Regions from separate parts of the Homo sapiens genome. Here region 1 is linked to region 2. The links come from fine-mapping of genetic effects on gene expression. A gene starts in region 2. The other region holds a variant in brackets. All regions are shown on one strand. Distances are from middle to middle. Region 1 overlaps ANXA11 (annexin A11). Region 2 holds the start of ANXA11 (annexin A11).

Evidence for each region.
Region 1: its variant is fine-mapped to the expression of ANXA11 in whole blood (INTERVAL, PIP 0.94).

The regions. Positions count from the first base shown.
Region 1 is chr10:80,153,902-80,156,810 of GRCh38, reverse strand. It overlaps ANXA11 (annexin A11), which reads left to right. Exons shown (of 16, transcript NM_145868.2): 16 at 899-2,909. The coding sequence ends at 958. Among named protein-coding and RNA genes, the nearest start is that of PLAC9, 23 kb to the right of the region's middle. The variant G/T (reference allele first, on the strand shown) is at 1,382.
Region 2 is chr10:80,203,790-80,206,698 of GRCh38, reverse strand. ANXA11 (annexin A11) reads left to right here and starts at 1,162. Exons shown (of 16, transcript NM_145868.2): 1 at 1,162-1,356. RefSeq lists enhancers at 1-164, 2,804-2,883 and a silencer at 939-1,818.

The DNA.
Region 1 (2,909 bases), 50 kb after region 2:
GATTCTAGGCTGGGCACAGTGGCTCACGCCTGTAATCCCAGCACTTTGGGAGGCTGAGGCAGGTGGATCATTTGAGGTCAGGAGTTCGAGACCAGCCTGGCCAACAAGGTAAAACCCTGTCTCTACTAAAAATACAAAATTAGCTGGGCTTGCCTGTAATCCCAGCTAATTAGGTAGGCTGCGGCAGGAGAATTGCTTGAACCCGGGAGACAGAGGTTGCAGTGAGCTGGGATCACGCCATTCCACTTCAGTCTTGGTGACAGAGTGAGACTTCGTCTCAAAAAAAAAAAGAGAGTTAATAATTCATTACAGAGTATCTCCTGCATGCCAGCAAGCTATGGACATCTGGAAGAAGCCACATGCCTTGCCCTCAAGTTGCTTAGGGTGGAAGGAAATGATTAGAAATGAGCCAAGCCGAGCCTGCACTCTTAGAGTAAGTGTAGTGGCCTCAGACAGAGGAGAGATCCCTGGGACCTGGGCAGTCTGAGCCTTCCACTGGACAGTCATGTGTGAGGAGATTGCATTTCCTGAGCAGGACACTGTGTTGCGTTACATTGGTAACCCCAATTTAAGGCAGCATAAATGCACTGGGAAAACAGCAATATTGGTTAGCCCTGGGAAGTGGTTTTTAGGATGATTATAATTTTTTTTTGTGGGTATTCATTTGATGTGGATAGCTGGGGTGAGTGCTGCTTTCCGTCTTCTGATGGGGGCCTGGAGAAGGCTGAACTGCATTTTTTAAGGTCTGTGACGCCTGCTGCAGGACCTGCAGTGGGAGAAAATTCCCCAGGGTGGGGCTTTCTCCCTATAAGGGTGCTCAGGGCTGAATATCAGGACCCAGAAGGCTGAAAGTGACTGTCCCTCCCTTAACGGATGTCTTCCTTGTTTCTGTGGCCAGGGAGATACTTCAGGGGATTACCGGAAGATTCTGCTGAAGATCTGTGGTGGCAATGACTGAACAGTGACTGGTGGCTCACTTCTGCCCACCTGCCGGCAACACCAGTGCCAGGAAAAGGCCAAAAGAATGTCTGTTTCTAACAAATCCACAAATAGCCCCGAGATTCACCGTCCTAGAGCTTAGGCCTGTCTTCCACCCCTCCTGACCCGTATAGTGTGCCACAGGACCTGGGTCGGTCTAGAACTCTCTCAGGATGCCTTTTCTACCCCATCCCTCACAGCCTCTTGCTGCTAAAATAGATGTTTCATTTTTCTGACTCATGCAATCATTCCCCTTTGCCTGTGGCTAAGACTTGGCTTCATTTCGTCATGTAATTGTATATTTTTATTTGGAGGCATATTTTCTTTTCTTACAGTCATTGCCAGACAGAGGCATACAAGTCTGTTTGCTGCATACACATTTCTGGTGAGGGCGACTGGGTGG[G/T]TGAAGCACCGTGTCCTCGCTGAGGAGAGAAAGGGAGGCGTGCCTGAGAAGGTAGCCTGTGCATCTGGTGAGTGTGTCACGAGCTTTGTTACTGCCAAACTCACTCCTTTTTAGAAAAAACAAAAAAAAAGGGCCAGAAAGTCATTCCTTCCATCTTCCTTGCAGAAACCACGAGAACAAAGCCAGTTCCCTGTCAGTGACAGGGCTTCTTGTAATTTGTGGTATGTGCCTTAAACCTGAATGTCTGTAGCCAAAACTTGTTTCCACATTAAGAGTCAGCCAGCTCTGGAATGGTCTGGAAATGTCTTCCTGGTACCAACTTGTTTTCTTCTGCTTGATTCTGCCCTGTGGCTCAGAGGTCTGGCCTTATCAGCCAGTGAAAGTTCATGTAACCTTACGTAGAGATTTGTGTGCAGGAAACCCTGAGCATACACTAGTTTGCAGGGACTCGTAAGGACATGGGAAGGGAGGTTCCCGAAATCCAGGCAGGAGGCCCAGACACCTGAAAGGCAAAGGGATCTTGGTTGGTTGCAGGTGCAGTGAAGTCCACTGAAGGTGTGGTGCGAAGAATGCAGTCCTTCACCCAGGTCCCAGGAGGGAAGAAGGGTGTGTGCTAATTCCTGGTGCCCCTCGGCGGGGGCCAGAGAGAAGGATGGGGACAACCCAGAGAGTCACAAGACCAGTGCCTCCCCTCAGGGTGCCTCCAGGCTGAAAGGGGCTCCTGGCTCTGGTCTCTGGGGACCCTGTGCCCGTTGGTTGGTGGTGTGAGGGAAGAGAATCCATAAGAGAGTTTCTGAGAATTATGGTGTCATGTCCAGAAGCTAGAGCTTACCTTGCATCAGGGGTCTCCACCCACTCCTTTTCCAACCTCCTGCGTTGAGGTTTAGAAAAGAGAGAATCGACTAGGCACTATGGCTCACGCCTGTAATCCAAGGACTTTGGGAAGCTGAGGTGAGAGGATCACTTGAGCTCAGGAGTTCAAGACTAGCCTAGCCAACAGCGAGACCCCTGTCTCTACTAAAAAATTTGGCCAGGCGTGGTGGCTCACGGCTGTAATCCCAGCACTTTGGGAGGTGAGGCGGGCAGATCACCTGAGGTCAGGAGTTCGAGACCCAGCCTGGCCAACATGGTGAAACCCCATCTCTACTAAAAATACAAAAATTAGCCAGGCATGGTGGCACATTCCTGTAATCCCAGCTACACAGGATGCTGAGGCAGGAGAATCACTTGAACCCAGGAGGCAGAGGTTGTAGTGAGCTGAGATCACACCATTGCACTTCAACCTGGGTGGACAGAGTGAGACTCTGTCTCAAAAAAAAAAAAAAATTTACCTGGCATTGTAGTGCATTCCCTATAGTCGGCTACTCTGGAGGCTGAGGCAGGAAGATCCTTAGAGCCCAAGAAATTGAGGCCGTAGTAAGCTGTGATTACACCACTGCACTCCAGCCTGGACAACAGAGCGAGACCTTGTCTCAAATGAGAAAAAAACAAAAAGAAATGGGAGAATCCAGAGAGACTAGGCTAGATC
Region 2 (2,909 bases):
TTCAGGAGCACTTGTATGGAAAGACCCTCCAAGATATAGTGAGTAAAAAAACATGTTGCAGAAAAGTACTGCAATATCGTTTTGTAAACAATACGTTTATGTAAACACACACACACAGTGTTAAAGAGAGATATTTGGAAGGACACACCTAAGAGTGGGCTGGGGGAGTGGAGGGAAGAGTGAATCTCAATTTTTACTCATTTTTTGAATTTTTTATTTTTAGTTTTTTAGAGACTGGGTCTCACTATGTTGCCCAGGCTAGTCTGGAAGCCCTGTCTTCAAGCCATCCTCCTGTCTTGGCCTTCCAAAGTGCTGAGATTACAGGCGTCAGCCACCACTCATTAAAAAAAAAAATTGTATACCTACCATATATGCATATATTACCTGGGTGACCTTTTAAAAATATGCTTTATTTTTAGAACATCTTTAGATTTACAGAAAAAGTGTGAATACAGGGAATTCTCATAAACCCGGGCTTTTCCTATTATTAACATCTTAAGTCATTTTTATATCTCCGTGGGTTCCTCTTGGCTGTGACAGTGTCCTAGACTTTCCTTGTTTTTGATGACCTTGCTAGTTTTCAGGAGTACTGGTCATGTATATGGCAAGGGCCTCAATTGATTTGTGATGTTTTCCTCATGATTACAGTGGGGTTAGGTGTTCTTGGGAGGAAGACCACAAGCGGTGCATGCAATCAGTATGATTTACCCCTGTCGAGGTCACCTTGACGGCTGGGTGGTTTGTCAGGTTTCTCCACGATAGTCACTGACCGCTCCCTTCCTCACATACTGTGCGTGACCTTCCCCCCTCCACCACCACCGAGTGTTGCTATAAAGGAAATGCGTTTGACCTTTTCAGTGTAAAAAGTTTTCTCGACCTTAAAGAGAGTCACTAACCGACGCACACGGGGCTGGAGAGGACTTAGGAAATGCCCACCCCTGCAGGAGGGCGAATGCGGCTCTGCGCGGCACTGGGCGCCGCAGGGGTTAGGGGCGGCAGAGGGACCTCCGGAGCCCGAGACTTCCTGGAGCAGCTCCGCAGCCGGAAGGCTGCTGCTCCTCGCGGGCCCGCCGTGCCCAGTCCTCATCTTGGGGGCGGGGCCGCGCTCAGGCCCCGCCCCTCCCTTGCACTGCCTCTGGCACCTGGGGCAGCCGCGCCCGCGGAGTTTTCCGCCCGGCGCTGACGGCTGCTGCGCCCGCGGCTCCCCAGTGCCCCGAGTGCCCCGCGGGCCCCGCGAGCGGGAGTGGGACCCAGCCCCTAGGCAGAACCCAGGCGCCGCGCCCGGGACGCCCGCGGAGAGAGCCACTCCCGCCCACGTCCCATTTCGCCCCTCGCGTCCGGAGTCCCCGTGGCCAGGTGAGTGAGGGTCCCGAGCCGGCTGGGGGCCTGGGACCAGGCGGCGGCAGTGCACCGCGGCGCCGCGGGTGAGGCCCGGGGCTGCCTGGCGCCCAGCCCAGCGCGGCCCTGCGGCTTCCTGGTTGCACTACAGGCGTGGGGGTGGGGGGCAGGGGAGGGCGTCGGCGGGTCGCGGGCGGGCCGTGTCGGCCTGGCAGCCCCCTAGATCAGCCTCGGCGTCTGGGGCTGCTCCCTCATGTGTGGTCGGGGTGCACTCGCCGTCCCCCCGGGCTCAGGGGTCGGGGTCTCAGTCTGGGCCTGGGTAGGGCCAGGGGCCGTGACCCTGGGCGCAGGAGGCAACGGGTGGCGGGAGGGGTGCCGGAGGCCCGGCCCCGCAGCCCTGCGGAGCCCTCCAGGGTGCGCGCGCCCTTCTAGGCGAGGCTTGGGGAGATTAAGCAGAGAAGGCTATCTTCAGGAACTTTCCTCCGAAACTGGGAGCACGCACATTCCTGGGAGCTGCTACCATTGCAGTTTATTTGTAAGGAACTCTCCCCAGTGTTTGAGGGAATGCGGGAGCCATCCCAGGTGCTGTGCGTGCCTTCGCCCCTTCCCCAACCTTGATCCCCAGTTTCAGGAAGGGATTCCTGGACTTGTATCTCCCATGGGTGCAGGCCAGGCCCTTAAGACTTAGGTAAAATGGTCTGTTGGTTTAAAGGAGACACGCGAAGTTTGTTACCTAGAGACTTTGGAGGGGAAAAGTTAAGCCAGCCAGTGCTAGCCCAAGCTGGAAACAGTCAGCCCGGGGCATTTCTGTCTCTGCCCTCCAATCCTTGACCTCTCTGTAGAGATTCGGCGTTTGTGGTAGCTCTCCCCTCTGTTCTCTGCGCTGGGCATGGAGTGGAGCTGTGAGGCCGAGCCCCTGCCCTGCCCTGCCCTGCCCTGCCCACGCAACAGGGACTAGGTTTGCAGGGCAGGGCCTGGTATGCTCACCCTTCACTGGCTCTCATTGCTTTCCTCATTCCTTTTATGCGGCAGTCAATTGTTGGGGATTCCAGGGGATTAACAGGGCCCCTTTCCTCAAGGCATTCTTTGTGCTGCAAGGTGTTCCCTGATAAGAGAGGCCAGGTGAGGTGCCAGGGCAGTTTGTTGCCCTGGCATTGGGTGCCCACTACTTCAGGCTCCTGCATACCTTGCTATCTTTTCTTTGACTATTGTCTGTGCTTTGGTTTTTCATCTGTAAAATGGGGGTAATAGTAATCCCTGCCTCACAGGCTTGTGAGATTCAGTGCATTCATTTATTTAATAACAATACAGAGCTCAGGTACGGACCAGTCAGAACAGGTGGTGACTGCTGCACCACACTTGTGTATCCCAGATGGGTGTCACCCACATTAGCCATAAAGTGTGTGAGGCAGGCCTGGGTCATAAATAATCAGGTGTAAGGGTCAATAAATAGTAGCAGTGGAAGGTTCAGCTAAAGTTGAAATGCACTTCTCCTGAACCGTCTTTCTGGCTTAGCTCATGCTAAGCTCATGCTCTCTGTCTTACTGGAATGCCCTCCCTCCCCTGTCTGG